Regions from separate parts of the Homo sapiens genome. Here region 2 is linked to region 1. The links come from fine-mapping of genetic effects on gene expression. A gene starts in region 1. The other region holds a variant in brackets. All regions are shown on one strand. Distances are between the middles of the regions.

Region 1 (10,136 bases):
AATCATGGATGGAGGGAAAGAAAATTTTAGGCTTATTTTCAGAACTGTTTTAAAATGTCAGAACCTCAGGTTGTGTTACAGGTTGGGATTCAGGATCCACGGTTTAAGAGGGTTTCACATGGGCCGGGCGCAATGGCTCACGCCTGTAATCCCAGCACTTTGGGAGGCTGAGGTGGGCGGATCATGAGGTCAGGAGATTGAGACCATTCTGGCTAACACAGTGAAATCCCATCTCTACTAAAAATACAAAAACTTAGCCGGGTGTGGTGGCGGGCATCTGTAGTCCCAGCTACTGGGGAGACTGAGGCAGGAGAATGGTGTGAACCCGGGAGGTGGAGCTTGCAGTGAGCTGAGATCGTGCCACTGCACTCCAGTCTGGGTGACAGAGGGAGACTCCATCTCAAAATAAATAAATAAATAAATTAATTAATTAATTAAAAAAAGAGGGTTTCACATGAAGAACTTGAAGAATAAGACTCGTCTGTGGGGACCATGTGCACAGGCACTGTGTGTGCAAAGGTCTTTATCATCAGAACCTCAGAATAGATGCATGCTCAGAGTTATCCTCCCATGCCCAGGATGGATGAAGCAAGACCTGCCTAACTAGTGAGGACACAAGTGCACGCCTAGCTTCTCCACTAGCCTCAAGCTGAGAAATGACGCCAACATTTTTTTACTCTCCTCCCATGTCCAATTAGCTGCCAGGCCCAGGAGACTTCATCTCTTTGTTATCTCATGATATCTCTGTGCTGGTATCTTCATTCCCATAACTGCCACCTTTCTTAGTCCTCTTTCCCTCACTCTGGGGTCACTGCAGTGGGCTCCCTGAAGGGCTGGGTCCAGTGGCCCCTCACGAGACACCCTCTGTACTGGAAGTTGAGTAATGGCTCTAAAACACCAATCTAATTATTCATTCTCCCCACCATGTTCTGGCCTCCGCATACAGCTTTCCACCTTGAGTTAGCCTGTTCATAGCTTTTCTCTGTCGAGACTATTCTCCTCTCTTTCTTCTGGCTAACTCCAGGAAGTCTTTCAAAACCTGGGCCCAGCCCACTTCTCTCAGTGCATGTCTTCACAGTCTTCCCATTCAGATTTCAGAACCCTCCTCTGCTCTCGAATCAACCCATGCAGACCAGTCTTATGGGTGCGTCATGTTGTGTTGCCATGGCCAATTCATGTCATCAATCAATGGGCTACCAGGCGTAAGCAACCTGGGGGCAGGGGCTCTGTCCTACTCCACTGTGCATCTCCATTGCATGTGCCATTCTTGCACACGGCACTTGGCACGGTTCTGATGACTTTATAAATATTAACTTATAACAACACATGATTGTTAGAGGAATGTGCAAGCATTCATTCAACAAATGGGTACTGAATATCTAGCAGGTGCCAGGTACAATTTTAGGTGTTGGGGATTCAGAAGTGAATGAGACACCCAAACTTCTTATCTCAGTGAATTTGTAACCTGTCAAGGCAAATGAATGATAAACAGATAGGCAGGCATATAATATAATGTGAGGCAGTGACAGGAGGTATAAAGAAAAATAAAGCTGGACAAAGGGATGAAATATGACAGAGTTGTCATTTTAGATGAGATGGTCAGGCCAGGCAGTCTGAGCAGAGGCTTGAGCAAAGTGAGCAGAGAGCCCCGTGGATTTGTGTGTGTATGTGTGTGTGTGTTGGGGTGGGGGGAATGGGGTGTCAGGCAAATGAAACAGCAAGTGCAAAGGCCCTGGGGCAAGAACAAACTCAGCCTGTAAAGAGCACAGCAAAGAGGCCAGAGTGCTGGAATGCAGGGTATGGGGAGGTATGCAATAGGCCTATGGGTTAGGCCAGGTAGAGTCTTTCAGGCATGCTGAGGCCTTTGGAGTTGATTTGAAGTGTGAAGGGTATTCACTGGCAGGTGCCAAGCATGACGGGTGATGATTCAACTTATCTTTTATGGGATCTATGGACTACGAGGGGCATCACTGGAAGCAGGTAGACCAGTAAGGACAGTGGTCCTGATAGTGATGATGGTGACTTTGACTCCCCAACCATGGCAGGGAGAGGTGGGCAGACTCTGGATGCATTCTGCAAGTGGAGCAGACAGGATTTGCTGATGGTTGGCTATAAAGGATATGAGGACCAGATGACTCCATGGCTTTTGGCCAACTGGTGAACTGGTGATTTTATTTATTGATGAAGGAGGAATGGCTTGAGAGTAAGGTTGGAAATGAAGTATTCTGTTTTAAACCTTTAAGTTGGACTTGCTAGCAGGACATAGTTTTGCCTTCTATGAAATGGAGATAATGTTTATTTATAAATTTTAATGAGAATAAAATGTGATCATTTTCTTTGATGTTATATAGATAGAAGGTCTCTTTTCTTTTTTAGAGAAAAGGTCTCCCTCTGTCACCCAGGCTGGAGTGCAGTGGCATGATCAAGGCTAGGCCCACTGCAGCCTTGAACTCCTGGGCTCAATCCCACCTCAGTCTCCCAAGTAGCTGGGACTACAGACACACAACACACCACCATGTCCAGCTAATTTTTAAATTTTTTAGGAAATGAGGTCTTGCTACGTCGCCCAAGCTGGTCTAGAACTTCCGGCTTAAGCGATACCCCTGGTTAGGCCTCCCCAGTCAGTGGGATTATAGGTGTGAGCCACCACAGCAGGCTTAGAAGGTCCATTTTTTATTCACACTCAAGCTAGGGGTAGAGTTCTTTTTAAAAGAACACAAACAAAACTCCATCTTATTACTTAGATATTGCTTCACTGTACAATGGTCTCTCTCATCAAGAAATGACATTGGTAACAGACCCATTCTCTATATTTATTTATTTAACATTTATATAGAACTTACTATGCACCATGCCTTATTCTCAGGACTTTGTAAGTATTAGTGAATACGATCCTGTAAAACCCCTTGTGGTATATACCATTATTACCCACCCATTTTATAGATGAAACTATGCCGCAGAGAAGTGATTTGCTCAAGGTCCCACAGCTAGTAAATGGCAGAGCCAGAAGTCAACGCCAGTGGCTCTAGCTGTGCTCCGACCACTACTGCACATCCTCTGCTCCCTGAAAGCCTGGCCATCTCTGACATGTGACAAGCCTGTGATGTATCCAGCCCCTTGGGTCTGACACCACTGCCTGCCCCTGTGCCCAGATAGGCGTTCCTGCCTTGGTTCTTACAAAACCCCTGCTCAAAAGAAGCCTGTTAGTATTGAGGGCAACACCCCTCTTTGTCTCTCAGTCCTCCCCAGGCTGCTGCCAGCCACCCAGCACTGTGTCCTTTGTGCCTTTCTTCTAATGCCCTAGGTCAGCCTCCACCCCGCATTGCCACACACAGCTTTTTTGGTATCCTGCTCTCTCCACGCGCCCCGCCTCACTGCCAGTTGTTACAAGTTGTTTTAAACTCTTGCAAGTATCACGTTTTCCACTCGTGTTGCGGCAGACCATGTGCTACATTGAGCCCAGTGCTGAAGACAGGAGATGAACATGACCTGACCCATGACCTCTCCAGAGACCTTCAGCTAGAAGACGTGCCTTTCACTTTTTAGTCCCCTCTCCCGGCACCAAATGGGTGCGAAGCGGGCATTCGATGAATATGCATACATTTATTTAGCAAATGTTTATTGAGCGCCTACTACATACAGGGCAAGGCAGTGTGCCAGGTGCCAAGGATATGGCGGAAAACCAGACAGACGCAGAGTCCCCATGGCTCCAGAGGTGCGGGGCCAGCCTTGGCCAGTCCTCCTCAGTGCCCCCTCGAGGGCCTGGGAAGGGTGCAGGGTGGTGGAGGTGGGGGCAAGCTGGGAGAAGTAAAGGCTGCGGTAAGTGGCGACGGCAACAGGAGCCGAAGCAAGAGGCGGGCGTGGCATGTGGCCAGGGCGACGTATCCGTCTCGAAACTAGACACGAGACGCACGTGCCGCAGCGGCCTCGGAGACCCCCTGCCCCGCTGCGGCCGTACACACCACAGCGTCTACGCGGGGGCGGGCATGGGCCTAGGGGCGGGGGAGGTGGGAGGCAGATGGGAGCCCGCCAAGACTGGACTGTCTTGGAAGAAGGCGGCTGAACCGTGCGTGCGCGGCCGGAGCGGGGGCGCGCGATTGGAGCAGGCTAGCTTGGAAGGAGACCGTAGAAGTCTGCGGTTCCGTGCCCAGACTCTGGGGCCTGGATTCCAATCGCAGGCCTGTTGCTTATATATGTCACCTTGCGCAAGTCCCTTAGCCTTCATTGCGGCTCATTCACATCACTGGTAAAATGGGTTTACAATAACCTTAGGTTGCTGCGAGGACTAAAAGGGACAATACCTGGAAAGGCGTTAGTATGATGCTCAGCACGCAAGAAACGCTCCGGGAGCCGAGGTTATTATTATCGGCTGTTCGCACCTCGCCGGGTCCCCTCACCTACCCCAGGCCAAGGCGCCCACTGCTCTCTTCCAAGGGACAGGCGACTAACCTATTAGGGCGCGTCCTGCCTAGATAGATGTATTTGCTTGGTTGGGGCGGGGTTTGGAGTGAAGCAGGGAAGAGAAGGAGATGGTGAGGGCAAAGAAAGGGAAGAAGCGGAGGGGCAGGAGGCGGGCGAGGCGGCCTGGGCGGGGCCGGGGAGGAGCCGGGCTGGGCTCCCGGGGCCCGGGCGCAGCGCGCACCCGGAGCTGGCGGCGGCGGGGGCGGGGGCGGCGCGCGGCGGCCAATGGCGCGCGGCGCTGCAGCGAGGGCGGTGCAGGAACACCGGCCGCTGACAGCCAAACTCGCCAACTCCGCCCTCGTCCCCGCGGGATCCCAGAGCCTGAGCCGGCCTGGGGCCGAGGCCGCCCGAGCCGCGAGGCGAGCGAACATGGCAGCAGAATGAGGAGGCTGGCGCCGGGTCGTGGCCGCCGCTGCCGCGCTGCAGCTCGGGATCCCAGTCCGGCGCGCTCCGGGCCGCATCCTTAGCCGGCCTCCTGGCGGCCGCGGGATTATTTCATTCCCAACGGAGAGCTAGGAAGAAAGGAGACTCCCCCGCGGAGCGGTTCCGTGCTCTGGCAGGGTGTAGACGTTTGTCTGTGCGATTCGCCGGCTGCGCAAACGACGCGGGAGAGAGCCGGTCCCGGGCTGCGGCGGCGCGGCCGCGGGGATGAGCCGGCCATGGAGCGGCCTTGGCGGGGCGCACGCAGCGGACTGGCGCTGCCGCGGGAGCGCAGCCTGAGCCGGGGCTCCAGGGGGCTTCGAAGCCTCCGGCGCCCTGGGGGGGTCCCTGCCGCCGACTCCGGGAAGGACGCGAGCCCCGCGTGGCGGACACTGCCGCAGTCACCGTTCTGAGGCGCCCCGAGCTTGCTCCGCCTGCAGCTCGGTGCGCTCTGGGCACCCGGGCGCCTTGCCCGGTGCACGGCGGCTGGCGCACCGCGGCTAGATTGGCTACAGGAGCGGGGTGCAGGACTGGCTAGAGGTGGGTGTGTGCGCGCGTTGGACTGGAGATCCGAGCAGAAGCAGAACCAGGCGGCTCTGAGCAGCCATGCTTCCCGGGGTGGGCGTGTTCGGCACCAGCCTCACGGCCCGTGTCATCATCCCGCTGCTGAAAGACGAGGGCTTCGCGGTGAAGGCGCTGTGGGGCCGCACGCAGGAAGAAGCGGAGGAGCTGGCCAAGGAGATGAGTGTCCCCTTCTACACTAGCCGCATTGATGAGGTGCTGCTGCATCAGGACGTGGACTTGGTGTGCATTAACCTGCCGCCGCCCCTCACCAGACAGATCGCTGTCAAAACCCTAGGTGAGCGACCCCTACCCCGCATCCTCCGTCCCACCCCCGCCCTTTAACCTTCTCTAGGTTCCTTCCCCCCTGCCTTTCCCTCTCCGCATCCCAGAAGCTTACCCTGCATCTACGCTGCCCCGGGGATCTGAGATCCCAGATCCGACTCAGAGCTCCCTCCTTCCTCGTCCCCGGCCTTCCCCACCTTTGCGCTTCCCTCCTGCCTCCTGGCACCACTTGGACGCGCTTCCCCACGTGTGTAGATTGCAGGCTGGAGAAGGCGTGTGTTCCGGGGATCCGAACTAGGAAGATCAGATGCCGATAATAGGGGATAGGGTGCTCCGCGAGAAGAGGAAAGTTACTCCTCAGCTGTGTGTGTAGTGTCCAAGTGTGTGTGTGTGGGGGGGGGGGATGGGGGGGTGGAGGAGGGTTGTGCGCGCGCGCGCCTGGGAGAGGCGAGTGCGCGCCCAGAAACGCCTGAATAAAAGGCCGCACACGTGTGTCGGGTTTTCTTGGGTGCGATAGAGGACCTGCCCTTCAGCAGCGGTGGCGCCCTGCTAGGGTCGTTTGTTTCTTTCTGCTGTGAGTTAGTTTAGCGTGAGATTGCAGATGTTACCATCGGCTGGAATTATTTCGTCTGCGCTGGAGGCAAGGACGGTGGGAGTGGTTGGATGGGGGTGATGATGTATTAGAATGTTTTCAGAGGCGTCATAGGTTAGTAAAGACTGATTTGGTAAAACCAGGGGGTTTTAACTTTTGACTGCAGCCTCCCGGGAAATGTCTTCTGCCCCAATTTGGAGTAATAGATTTTAAATTTTTAGGAGGATGGGCGCAGTAGCTCCAGAGGCATGGATGCTTTGCATGAGAAAAGGCCCTCCCTAATCGCCTTCAGGAATAGTTTCGGAAGGCACAGTGTTGACCCGTGGGCTGGAGATGAGTTCAGGGTGCCTCACCATCTGGTCCCTGCTCCCCTCAACTCCCAGGCAGTCTGAACAATCTCTGAGGACAGAGTAGCAGCCTCTCAGCCTATGCTCAGGGGAAAGAGAAGGGCATGTTTTGTTCATCATCAGTTCTTGCACGTAACCTAAAACAATCCCAGGAAGGTTGCTTGATCTTACAATTCCAAGAAAATGAGCAGCTCACCTTTGAAAGCTGAAGTTTCTATTGGTGAGGAAAAACACAAAGCTTATAACAAGAACAAAGCTTATAACCAGATGAAGCGAATAGTAGAACAGATTAGAAGGGAGGAGCTGCGAAGGAACAGAGACAACATCCAGAAACCAGCCGGAAGTTATGTAGTCTTGGAAAGACTGTTTTATTTGTTAAAAATAGGTATGGATTCAGGGTAGGTGAAATATACGTGTGTTTTAATTCTGTCTTCGAAGAGCTATGAACAGAATGTAAAACTCTTTCTCCATAGAAAGGCATTTTCATCAGGCCATTTGGCTATTGACTCAGATGCAACATCTGATAGAATTCCTAAGGAGGCTGCCCACATTGTCAGTTTTAATTGTCAGTTAATTTTATTAAGTGTCTGCCCTTTGTGGCCTGTTTCTTTGGCCTTGAACTGAATGCCATTGAACTGAATGCTAATATTTATTTTCTGTTTAATGGAACATGTATGTTGGGTGGATAACTCCCTTGTTTACATTGGCTCTTTGCATATCAAATATCTTATAACGATCTTATGGTATAATTCTATTAGTGCAATTTGTACAAAACTGGTCCCTGATGAGCCCTGCGTATACTGGAGAGCTTAGGACTGGTCATATCTGAAAGACCATGTTGTTAACATCGTTTCTCCACCATAAAGATGGCAGTTCCTGTCCTGGGTTCAGACCCACAGAGCAAACCTAGAGCAGGAGGGTGGCAATTTGGGGAACAAGGATGACCTTGTTTTCTGGCTGTCTCTGGGACCATGGCCATGAAAGTGTCTGGGGGCTCTGGTTTCAAGAGATGTGACACAAATTAGACATTTCTGGATACTTCTTCTGTTCTTATTTTTCAAATATCCCTGTGACTTTAATTAACAAGACATGTCTGTTACCTCTTCAAAACCAGCGATAAGAGGCATAATAGACCTAGTTTAGTAATGGTGATGACAGAATAGGGTTTTGTTCATGTTTTTAGGGTAGGTTTTGAGCTTCTTTCTTCTTTCTTTTTTTAACTCCTTCTTTTGCAGGGTGCCCCTGCGAGTGCACAGTGGGGTGGTCGTCTTGGTTTGCTTTACAGTCACTGTTGAAGGTTCAACACATAGAACGTAGGAAGTGAAAAACCCCAAACAGTTATCAGGCTGATCTGGCTGTTGGGAGTGTATAGATACGAGTGTTTGCCTGGAATTGAAACTAGCTACTTTGACTCATCCTGGTAAATTGTCCTTTTAGCAAAGGCCTGGACTTTGAATTGCTTGCCCAGTGAGGGTGACAGGTCTGTAGCCTTCGATCCACACTCATAACTGGTCACAGGCCTGTCAAAGTAAGGGGCTAGGGACCCTACTTTGTAGGGACCCTACAAAGTGTGGTCTAGGGACCACAGTGAAATGAAACTTCAGATCAATTGAATCACACACATCCTCCTTTAATTTTTAAAAATTTCCTCAAAATCCCTACCTTTGTGAATGAGGCATTCCTCTGTTGTAGAGGCATTTCTACCAAGTGTACTTTCTACACTGTCCAAGGCTGCCTCTTATTAAGTACATACTGTATGCCAGGCAGCATGGTAAGTGCTGTGTATAAAGCATTTCATTTCATGACTAAAATAATCCTCTAAGATAGATATTAGCTCCATTTCACAAATGAAGCAACTGAGATTCAGAGACCTGAGTCACTTTGCTCCTAGACCTACAGCTAGAGATTTGAACCCAGCACTCTACCTCCCCCGGAGTCATTTCTTCCTCTTCCATCAGCTGTACCTGTTCCTCTGCCATAGATCATGGCAGCCCAGGTCAGACTGTTGGAGTTGTCCTTTATTCCATCCCAGCCCTGGAATCGGTTCCCAAACCTGTTTGATGCCATCTGAAACTCTCTGTGTCTGTTCCCCATAGAAGTCAGGTCCTTTCGTAGTTTCTGAACTAGGTTCCAGTCCACCCCACCCAACCCTGCCTCTAGCCACTATCTACACTGCTGCCAGGTATGGAGTATCTGGCAGTGCTAGAGACCTGGTCATGTCATCGTTTCCCCTTTCAGGAAAAGCCCCAGCTGATTGGCGTGACATGCCCAGCCTCACATCCTGAAGAAGTGAGCCCAGCCTCACGTCCTGGTGGCCATTCCCGAACCCAAGGGCTTCAGCGAGCCCACCCTGCTGGGGTTTCCTTGAATGGGCCCTGTTGGCGCACATGTCCAGGTCTCTGTCAGGAACTTCCTTGTCCCTTGAGGTCTCCTTCCATGTTCGCCCTTCAATACTCAGCCCAAGTGTTACCGCTTCCTCTCCCTCAAACCCCCCACCCTACATACCCTTCTGTTGTCTCAGCACTGTGTGCCCCCATCTTGCCTAGCACCTATTTTAAGGCATTCATTTAACATTTAAATTTTATTTAGTTATTTTGAATTGGCTATATATTCATGTGGTACAAATTTCAAATGCTATAAAAGTACACAGTGAAGACTGAATGTCCCCTAGTCCCTGTCTTTGGACAGGAGGCAATCATTATTACCAGTTGTTTATGTCTCCCATTCAAGGCCATATATATATGTATATATAACACATAATATATACATATATTTTACATATACACTAATATATAGATGTATATATAACATAAAATATATGCATATATTTTACATAGAGATACACAAATATGTGAAACTCTGAATGTGAAAGTATTAAAAATAATATATATTTTTCAAGGTATATCCTGGCAAGTATATGTATGGGAATTTAATTTAATTTAATCTAATTTTATTTTATTTTTTGAGACGGAGCCTCGCTCTGTTGCCCAGGCTGGGGTGCAATGGTGCGATCTTGGCTCACTGCAACCTCCACCTCCTGGGTTCAAGTGATTCTCCTGCTTCAGCCTCCTGAGTAGCTGGGATTATAGGTGTGTGCCACCACACCCAGCTGATTTTTGTATTTTTTAGTAGAGATGGGGTTTCCCTATGTTGGCCAGGCTGGTCTCAAACTCTTGACCTCAGGTGATCCATCTGTGTTGGCCTCCCAAAGTGCTGGGATTACAGGTGTGAGCCACTACGCCTGGCCTGTGTGGGAATTTTAAAAACCTTTTACACAGTTGGTAGCATGCCATTCATTCTTATGGACCTTACTTTTGTCATGCAACAATATTAGCTTGAAAATTTATATATGTTAAAATTTAAATATTATTTTAAAAATATATTAAATGTATTAAATTTATTACATAAATTTTATATAGTAATATAATCAATGTTAAGCAATATAAATATTAATATAAATTATATTTAAT
Region 2 (10,136 bases), 670 kb before region 1:
AGTCATGGTGGCTCACACCTGTAATCCCAGCACTTTGGGAGGCTGAGTTGGGAGGATTGCTTGAGCCCAGGAGTTGGAGACAAGCCTGGACAACACCAGGAGACCCTATTTCTACAAAAAATTAGCCAGGTATGGTGGCATGCACCTGTGGTTCCAGCTACTTGAGGGGCTGAAGTGGGAGGATCACTTGAGCCCTGGCGACTGAGGGTGCAATGAGCCAAGGTTGCACCACTGCACTCCAGCTTGGGGGACAGAGCAAGACCCTTTCAGAAAGAAGAAAGAAGGAGAGAGAGAGGGAGAGAGAGAGAAGGAAGGAAGGAAGGAGGGAAGGAAGGAGGGAAGGAAGGAAGGAAGGAAGGAAAGAAGGAAGGAAGGAAGGAAGGAAGGAAGGAAGGAAGGAAGGAAGGAAGGAAGGAAGGAGCCACAGGATCCAAGCTTTAAAGGTATTGGTAAACATGTACCTCAGATGTGCATTTCTAAAAATGCAGACGTAGTGATTCAAAATTTCATATGGGCCAATAAACAAGATTTATTTCAGAAAATGTGAATAAGAAGAACAATGAATGGGGAATATATATACCAGATATTAAAATACAGCAGTCCCTCAGTGTCCATGGGGGATTGGTTCCAAGACTCCCATAGATATTAAAATCCACAGATGCTCAGGTCCTGATATAAAACGGTGCCATATTTACGTATAACCTATGCACATCCTCCTATATACTTTAAATCATCTCTAGCTTACTTATAATACTAATACAATGTAAATGTTACGTAATTAGTTGTTGTATTGTTTTTAAAATTTGTATATTTTTCATCATTGTATTGTTATTTTTATTGTGTTTTTTTCCTGAATGTTTTCAATGAGGTTGGTTGAATCTGCAGATGCAGAATCTGTGGATACAGAGGGCCCACCATACATACTCTTTTTGAGGGGCAAGGATGGTATACAGTGAAAACTGGAAACCCTGTTAGATAAATTCTAAAAGAGCTGTCACACTCAACTCTATATTCTACAATGGCAGTAACTAAACAGTATGGTACTGCCTCAGAACAGACAGACACGTCTATGGAACAAAATAAAGAATCCAGAAATAAACTGAAACACATCTGGGAATGTAATACATTATATAGATGCCATCCCAATTGAGTAAAGAGAAAGTGGATTATTTGATCGGTGGTGTTGAATCAACACAGAAGAAGCCATCTTGAAAAGATAAAGTTGGATCCGTGCCTCACACCTTACACCTGGATAAATTCCAAATGTAAGAAATCAAAACCCCAAAATAGTAGAAGAAAGCATGAGAGGATATTTAATAAGTTGAGATGGGAACAACTTATCCAACATAAGATTCAGACATTATAAAAGAATAGGTTAATAAAATTCTATCATGAAAACATAAAATGAAAATTCTCTATGCAATAAACATTACAAGCAAAGTCAAAAAGACAAATGACAAATCAGGAAAATATCTACTTCCTCCATCACAGACAAAGACCTAATTTCCCCACCATGCATGTTTTCATGCAAATTAATTTTTTAAGATGGTTAATCCATTTAAAAATGAGTAAAGGATATAAACAGTTCATAGAAAAGTAAATATAATAAGGCTCTTTAAAATATGAAAAATGTTCACAGCACTCACAAAAAAATACAAGTTAAAACTACCCTGAAATACAATTATTTGCTGCTGAAATTGGCAAAGATCCAAAACCCCGATAACATACTCAGTTGGTGAGGCCTGGAGTAAAGGGAACTCATTTATCACTGGAGGGGAAATAAATTGGATGGACGCAAAGGTCAATATGGCAATATCTATTAAAATTACAAATGTGCCTACCCTTTGACCTGGCAATTCATTTCACAGTCTTTATCCTACAGTTGTACCCACACATATGCAAAATGATGTATGTACAAGATTATCTGTTGCAACAACGTAAGAGAGAAAGATTGGAAACTACCTAAATGTCCATTAAAAAGGGACCTGGACAAGGAAATATTATTAAGGTGTAAAAAAGAACAAAAGATCTCCAATATATGCTGCTAGCTGAAAAAAAAAAAAGATATGAAACAACGAGTGAAAAGGAGAGAAAAGAATATATATCTTTTTCAAGTGCATAAAAATCTCTGGATGGATACTCAAGAAACTGTGTCACTAAGAGCAAGCCATATTCAAGGGGAGAGAAATTAGACTCTGTCTTTGATGGGAAGAGGGTCAAAGAATTTGCAGACATATTTAAGACCAGTTTTTATACTCCTAAAATTCTGAACCCCATGAATATATCACCTATTCAATATTTAATCCATCAATTTTTTAAAAACAAGGGAATGAGTACCACTGGGTTTCCAAGTTGTGGCAGTTTACTTCTGTCAAAAGAAAAGAAAACATTCAACTGTCATCAGAATTTTTTGCAAGTTAGACTTGATTTCAGCATTCCAGGAGGTCCTAGGAGAGATTCCTCCTGGTTTCTTGTGGGGATTCAAACCCAACCAGAAAGAGAGGGATAGAGGCAGACAGGGAGGGAGGGAGAGAGAGAGAGAGAGAAAGAGAGAGAGAAAGAGAGAAATATGTTATATGTTATGCCGGTGGTAGTTAGCAATGTGGTAATTGTTATAACCCCCTTTATAATTCTGTGTGATTTCTAACATTTTTTCATTGAGCAGAAATTTTTGTAACCAAAAAAACTGTTATTTAAAAATTTATATATTCTTCAAAGTTCACTTATTAGTTAAAATTCACGTATTATTTCAGATTCACCTTGCCTTCCAACAAAGACACATCCCTGGAGAAATGTTGCTTCTGCTAATGGAGTGCTAAGCTGAAGGATGCTGGTAGAAAAATTCAAAAGAAAACTATACTTTTAAAAAGAAAATCTAGAGTGGACAAAGAGAAATACAAGAGAAGGGAAAGGCTGGACAGCATTGCTGACGAGGTTGCAGGGTAAAAGTCAACTGGAGTATAAAGGAGCCATGAAGAGACCATCAGACGAACGCTGGGCACCTTAGACAGTAAACACTAGATAAATTCCATAAATTAGGTATCTTCAAAGGGGGTTTTATGCTTGGCCATATGGTCTGTGATGTACAATTCTTCCTCATTTCTTTATGACAGCATCAGTAACTTTGTATATATGTATGTAGTTTTCCAAAACACCCCCACCTCCAAAGGAATTCAGCTGAACAGGAACCTGAAAACTTCCACCTGTAGAAGGATATCCCCAGCAGAGTCTTGGGACAGGAAATAGGATGGTCTGGGCCGGAAATGTGAGAAGGTCAGTTGGCTGGAGCCATAAAGCGTCAGGTAGGGAGAGACAGGAGATGGGGCCTGATGGACAATAAGCAGGAGGCAGGTCTTGGAGGTCCCTATGTCTTACAGGACTTGTGGACGTTATCTCATAGATTACTTGGAACTACCAAAGAGCCTTAAATGGGAGTGTCTTAGATTTGTAACTTAAACTGAGCATGTGGCTGCAGCTGGAAGACAGATTGGAGTGGTCAAGATTGGAGACAGGGAGACTAATTAGGGTTTTATTTTGCAACAAACCTCATCCAGGTGATGGATGAGGATGGTGGAATAAGGATCGTGGTAGTGGGGAGAAAGAAACACACAGGTATGAGAACTCTCCAAAGGATAGAATGGGCAAAACGGAGTGATTGATTGGACTGAGGTTAGGTGAGGGAAGGGTTTCTGTGATGTTTCTTAGGTTTCTTGGAATGGATACTGTTGACAAAACAAACAAACAAACACACAAAGCATATATAGAGAAGACCCGTTGTGTGAGCCTTTTTAAATTGTTGCTTATTTCTTTTGTTGTCTGTAAGGAAGCTATGAGTTCAGTTTCGAACATGTTGCATTTATATTATTTATGGGACAACCAAGTAGAGATGTTCAGCTGGTGGTTGGATACTTGAGTCCAAGGTTTGGGGAGCATTCTGGGCTAGGGGTATAGAAATCATTAGGATACAGGCAAATAAATGATACAGAGGGATGGGTTCACCCCAGAATATCAGCACAGTAAGAAGGGTCATGGGGCAAGCACAGAGCTTTGGAAAGTGATGTCTGGAGTTAGAGATAGGACTCTAGGGTTTAGGACTCCAATGACTGAGTAGATGTTGACCTGATTATTTCAGGCAGGCACCTTTAGCTGCAGTAACTGGGACTCGTTCAATTTATCTCAAGAGAAGGGAGGTTTTGTGGAAGGGTCTGGATCAGACCCGGAGACCTCAGCAAATGAGGCAGGTCTGGGGGTATCCATCTCTCTCCAACCCTATTTATTTCTGTATATCCTCTTCATTTTCACAGTATTGACTTTATTATCTCTTCTCTAGGGCCAATTTCTCCAAAATTTGGAAGGTCTATAAACATCTTAAAACTGTAAGCAAATTGTTCATTTATGCATTTCTCTGCAAGGGGAGTCTGTAGCTTTTGTAAGATTCTCAGGGTAATCTAAGATACAAAAGAAGCCCAAAACCTCCTCCTTATCTCTGTCTGTCTCTCTCCAGAAAGAAAGAAGCCTTGGCTTGCCTCAGCCCCACCTTAACCCCACAATATCCATTCACTTCCCGATCACTTGCAAATTACAAAATTCTTTTTATTTTCCTAGTTCAGATTTTAAAATTAGAGGATATGATTGATCCAGTTTTTTTACATTAGGCCAAAGTTAATAGGATTATTGCTGTGGAGTCAGGGTTAGCTAGCAAGGGGGTGTGATGACAGAATATAAACCCAGGCTGCCTGAGAAGGAGGTTAGGTAAAGAAGCTTCCCTTGGAAGGGATGCGGTGCAGACAGGATGGAAGGTAAAGGCTTGGCCTACGCAGCATGCCCGTTACCATTAAAGAGGAGTAGATTGTGTATCCCACATATTGTGTGAGATGATCAATAGCTGGCTGGTTGCAATTACCCAAAGAGATTGGATTACAGGATTGATATTAAACTGGAAGATATCTAATGGAATGCTACAGATTTTGTAGAAGATCCCAACCTTATCTTTTCAACATTTATGTTAATTAAAGTTTATCAAACATGAATATCAAATTTGAAGCTGGGGGTGACATAATATATTGGAAGACAGAGCTGAGTCTCAAAACGATCTTGGCAAGTTGGAACAAGAGATCAAAACAAACAAGATTAAATTTAGTGGGGCTGAATATAAAATATTGTATTTAGAATTATTAAATTCAAACACACAACTACCACATCAGGAAGAAGTGGCCAATTATATGTTCATATATAGCTTTAAATAATCTCTAACCAATTTGATCCCAAAGAATAAGGCAATTGCTGAAGAAAAAGAAGAAAAAAAAGAAAGAAGACAGAGAGAAGAAGCAGAAGCAGGAGGAAAAGGAGGAGGAATAGGAAGAAGGAAGAGGAAGAAGGAAGGAGGAGGAGGAAGAAGAAGAAGGAGGAGGAGGAAGAGGAGGAGGAGGAGGAAGAGGAGAAGGGGGAGGAGGAGGGGGAATGTCCTGTATTAATAAATGTTTAAATGCCCAGATCCAAGTGTGGTGCTCCATTATTCATTGCTCAGAGGGCATCTGCATTCAGTGTCTAGCT[G/A]CTGGGGCCCTATTTGGAAAGATCCAGTAAACACAATATACTCTGCTCCTTAAGACAGCCTGCCTGGGCTGGGCACGGTGGCTTATGCCTGTAATCCCAGCACTTTGGTAGGCCAAGGTGGGTAGATCTGAGGTCAGGAGTTTGAGACCAGCCTGACCAACAGGGAGAAACCCCGTCTCTACTAAAAATACAAAACTAGCCAGGCATGGTGGTGCATGCCTGTAATCCCAGCTACTTGGAAGGCTGAGGCAGGAGAATTGCTTGAACCCGGGAGGCGGAGGTTGTGGTGAGCCAAGATCATGCCATTGCACTCCAGCCTGGGCAACAAGAGCAAAACTCCTTTTCAAAAAAAAGGAAGGAGGGAAGGAAGGAAGGAAGGAAGGAAGGAAGGAAGGAAGGAAGGAAGGAAGGAAGGAAGGGAAAGAAAAAGATAGCCTGCCTGGCTTCGACTTGGATTTCCTCCTAAGTTATTTTCTCTTAAATTACTTGCTCATGCTCTATTTGTTCCAGTCCATAGGCACATGATGCCCTTCTCCTGTGCCTGCTGAAGTCCTAGCATCTCCCCTCCAGGGACTGCAGTGAGCTCACACAACCCTGGACTCAAACTCTTGTCATCATGATCTTGCAATGATGCCCACTCCACGCCTTGAAACAGACTCCCAGAAGTGCCAGTGAGCAAACGTGAGGATGGGTTGTTTAGTCTTCATGGTGGCAACAACAGAAGAAACTGAGGTACAGAGTCATATCTCAAAGTAAGTGACCAGCACAGTTAGGATTCAGACTCCACATATTTGACCCCAAAGGCATGGCCACCCCTCATCCACTTTTTTCAGCTCCCCTTTGAGCTATGGCAACACAAAATCCAAGAAATCGATTTTTGAATAGTCTGTTTTGACTCTTTGGAATCCTCCCTTCTCCTTTCTTATCCTTCAGGCTGTCAGTCCCCATCTGCTCTGCCCCCAAGACCCCAGCATCTCCCCCTACTTCCCCCCTTCCCTCATACAGAGTCAACATTGTGACTGACACTTTTGTTTGCATGAACCCTCGCTTGAGTAGATAACCTCTGCTCAAAGAACACCTTGAGATGCAGATAGTTTTGGTCACAGTTTGGAAAGAGCAGGGGGTTGTGCCCCCAATGGTTTGGCTTACCAAGCAAACTTGCCACATAAATCTGAGTAACCCACACATCATCAGTGATATCAACATGCTCCCAAACCTAGCTGTGGAGGTCCAAAGATTGGCACATTTCCTTCCACATGGGATGAAATTGAGCCACGTCAGAAATTAGGTTAACTGCATGCATGAGAGCTGTGCAACAAATCAGATAAAATCCTCCAGGGTCCCAGGCTTGTGAAGGAGGGCCTCAGATGGAAGAAGAAACCACAGCTGTGTCCATGTTCAATGTCCTGGTGTTGATTGTGTAGGGGTAGTAAGAGTCAGAAGGGAGGCCAAGGTCATGGGCAACGAGGCAGTCAGGTGGAGCTGGCACAGCCATGGGAGGAGCATGAACCGAATAGACAAAGTGTACCATCCAACAGAGCATAATGCTCATGCTGGGCAAATGAGATACCACCAGGGAGGACCAGCCCTTCCCCTGACAGCAAAACGATAGGGTAGGAACACCTGGTCCCAAGCAGAGATTCGGTCAGGCCTGGGTTCTATGGGGCCCATGGGCCAGGAGGCTGGCCTCATTGGGCAGAGCATGCAAACCCTGCATAGTCCTGTTTCCTTTCCTCCAACCTACCAGCCAGGCCAAGTGTACATTTTCAGGCTAATGATCTATGAGGCTGCCAAACTAAACTTCATTTTCTGTTTGAAAGATTTTTCCAGTTTGGGGCCAGGCGCAAGGCTTGGCAATTTTACCCAGAGTTCTCCTTACACATGCAGTAATAACAATTAACCAAAAGCAACTGTGTGCCTTAGGGTATCCAAGCCCCTAGAATGTGCAAATGAGTCCCAAGGCAAGCGGGGAGTCAGGCGGGGGCACATCTGCTCATTTTCCTTTCCAAAATCATTGCAGTGCTAAGATCCCTTCCCCGCTTGCCAGGAAAGCGCTGCCCGGTGACTTGTTGCTGCCAGCAGTGGCTGCACATGGCCCCCTAAGTAGCAATTTAGGGCGATGTCCCATTTGCCAAAGAACAGTTACATACATTGACTAGTAGTACAGTTCAGACTTCTGTGGTTTGTGTGTACTTAAATAAAAATTACAGTCCACTCTTGGAAAGCATAATGAAAACTTGGTCTTTTTTAAGGATTCTAAGCTATTTAATTGGTCCAAATAACATCTGTCCCTGAACCTTACACCATTACCTACCAAGTCACGGAGGAGATGCAGGTAATGTGGTTACTGCCTCCACAAGAGGGTGACATCACTCACGCCTTGTTAAGTGGGTCCTTCTGTTCTCTAGTGTCAATCCCTGGTTGCTTCCTTTCACAAAGCTTCTTATCCAACACACTATCATTGTCATTAGTCAACTAATTAAAATGCCTATTAACATGGAGAATCATAAAAAAGATTAATACGTACAACCAACATTTGACTTTAACCTAAAAATAAATGTACCTTAATTTGCCAGTTTTTCCTTGTGCCAACAATCCCCGATCCCTCTCTGACCAAAGTCAACTAAAAAAGAAAGAGAAACTTAACGCAACACTTCCCCAAACCTAAGTTCCTTGACTAATCATAAAATAATCCTGGGCTTAAAAGTCACCTGAGAGATTAGCTCATTCCACTCCTTTAACAGAACTGAAAATAATGTAAAATTTTTTATCATTTTACAGAAGAGAAAAATGAAGTCAGAACAAGGATGTTAGCAAAACTGAGAGAGTTGTGAGTGCTTGCAGCAAAGGGGTTACCGATGCTAAATAAGCTCATCTGCTCTCTAGAACCCCAGACAGATTCACGAATTACAGGCCCCGCTAGAGTGTCATTGAAGGTGGGAGACAGGGCATTGAATCAATCAGGAAGATTGATTAGATGTCACAAAAGAGGCAGTAAGACTTCCCAACTTGTCCAGTGGGGTAACTGGTCCCCATGCCCACTGCCACCAGGATATGCAGGGGTCTTATTTGGGGGATGACATGGACAAGCTCCAGGCTCGAGGCTACCAGGCAGGTCAGAGGGCAGGGGCTGGTGCCCCGCTGACATCAGGGCAAGGAGTAAAAAGCCCAGATGCTGGACCCTAAGACCCCACCACCATGCTGCCTGGGCAGAGCTCAGGCAGTCACCCCCAGGCAGGAGACTGGAGCGAGACTGGAGGTATGATGTGTGCAAAGCCGCAGAGGCTGAGACTGAACTGCAAACAACCAGGCAGGGAGAGCATGAGCCCTGAGCAGGGAGGTGGGCAGAATTCCAGTGAGGGTGGGAGACCAGAAGGCTCTAAAAAAGTGAAATGGCATGGCCAAACCAGCACTGGAACAGGATCGCTCTGGCAGCAGAGGGGCTCTAAATAATGAAGGAGGTAACACTGGGAATGACTGGTTGGGTCCAGGTGAGGACGACAGCTCCTGAAGAAAGGCATATGGGGGAGGGAGAATAGGTTTGAGAGGAAAAGTTAAAACTAACAGAGTCAGGCCGTCTCTCACTGACCTCTTGGTTCAAAAGGTAGGACCCCAAGCTCCCAATGTTGCCCCTTTAACCTTGCCAGTTAATAGACCCAGAAAGACCTGGGTAAGTGAATGTAAAGAAATATTGCAAGTTGAGCCATGCGGTTGCTGTGAGATTTTAAACCAGTTGCCCACTTCTTGCCAGGAAATGTAATCTCATTTTGGGTTAGATGGATCTGCCAGGAAATACTCCAGTGTGCAGTGAAGCTGTGGAGTAGAGGTCAATTTTACAATTACGAAATAGCTGGCTTTTCCAGAAACACCAGCAGTCACCCGTCTACATCCTCAAACGGCAGCTATGAATATCACACCTGTGCAGCCTGTCACTGGGGGACACACTGGGGATGATGATTCACGTACGGTGGGAATGTGGGGGTACGCTGGGTGCACAGCCAAGTGTGTGCTATGAGCTGGACAAGGTGGGAGACGAGGTTGAGGCTCCTCTACAAACCTCGTCAGCTAGGGCTGGGCATCAAAATTAAACTTGTGCTTCTACCACAGCCCTCATTGTATCTTCTCATGGCCTGGGCAGTTCTTGGACCATCAAGGTCTACAAAATTGGCACTCCCCCCAAGAGAACTAAGCCTCCTTTACTTCTTCTACTTGGCACTGACGATGACTTGAGCTGTGACAGAGCAAAGGCCAAAATATGAATGCCATCTGGGCTTTAACAGTTACTAACTAGAGGAATAGTTCAACAACGCCTTTCGACTAGTGGGAAATAACGGAGCTAGTGTCTTTGGCCAGTCTCAAATCAGTCCTACCCCTGACTCAGGCAAGGTTTAAAGGGGGCTGGGACTAGGAAGAGGCAATTCACCTGGGATGCAAACCATGAGGGGATCCCAGAAAACTCAGCGATCAAGATATAAAATATTTCCAATATTTCTAAATGTTTAGAATATTTCCAATATTGCAAAAATTAAAATGAACATAGAAAAATCCATGATGAATAAAATATCAAAATGTTATACAAAAAG

Which allele goes with the higher level. Positions count from the first base shown, and alleles are read on the strand shown. Sizes are in standard deviations (SD) of each study's normalised expression.
With allele G in place of A in region 2, the expression in prefrontal cortex of the gene that starts at base 4,778 in region 1 is lower (moderate effect, 0.65 SD a copy in ROSMAP).

Evidence for each region. PIP is the estimated chance that this variant, and not a neighbour inherited with it, causes the effect.
Region 2: its variant is fine-mapped to the expression of GFOD1 in prefrontal cortex (ROSMAP, PIP 0.95).

The regions. Positions count from the first base shown.
Region 1 is chr6:13,482,242-13,492,377 of GRCh38, reverse strand. It overlaps GFOD1 (Gfo/Idh/MocA-like oxidoreductase domain containing 1), which reads left to right and starts at 4,778. Exons shown (of 2, transcript NM_018988.4): 1 at 4,778-5,740. The coding sequence starts at 5,488. It overlaps GFOD1-AS1 (GFOD1 antisense RNA 1), which reads right to left and starts at 6,117. Exons shown (of 2, transcript NR_046709.1): 1 at 5,925-6,117; 2 at 5,607-5,697. RefSeq lists enhancers at 3,727-3,856, 5,417-5,526, 8,162-8,231 and silencers at 3,917-4,026, 4,407-4,786, 4,807-5,286, 5,427-5,590.
Region 2 is chr6:14,147,328-14,157,463 of GRCh38, reverse strand. It overlaps the pseudogene RNU7-133P. Among named protein-coding and RNA genes, the nearest start is that of CD83, 35 kb to the right of the region's middle. The variant G/A (reference allele first, on the strand shown) is at 5,554.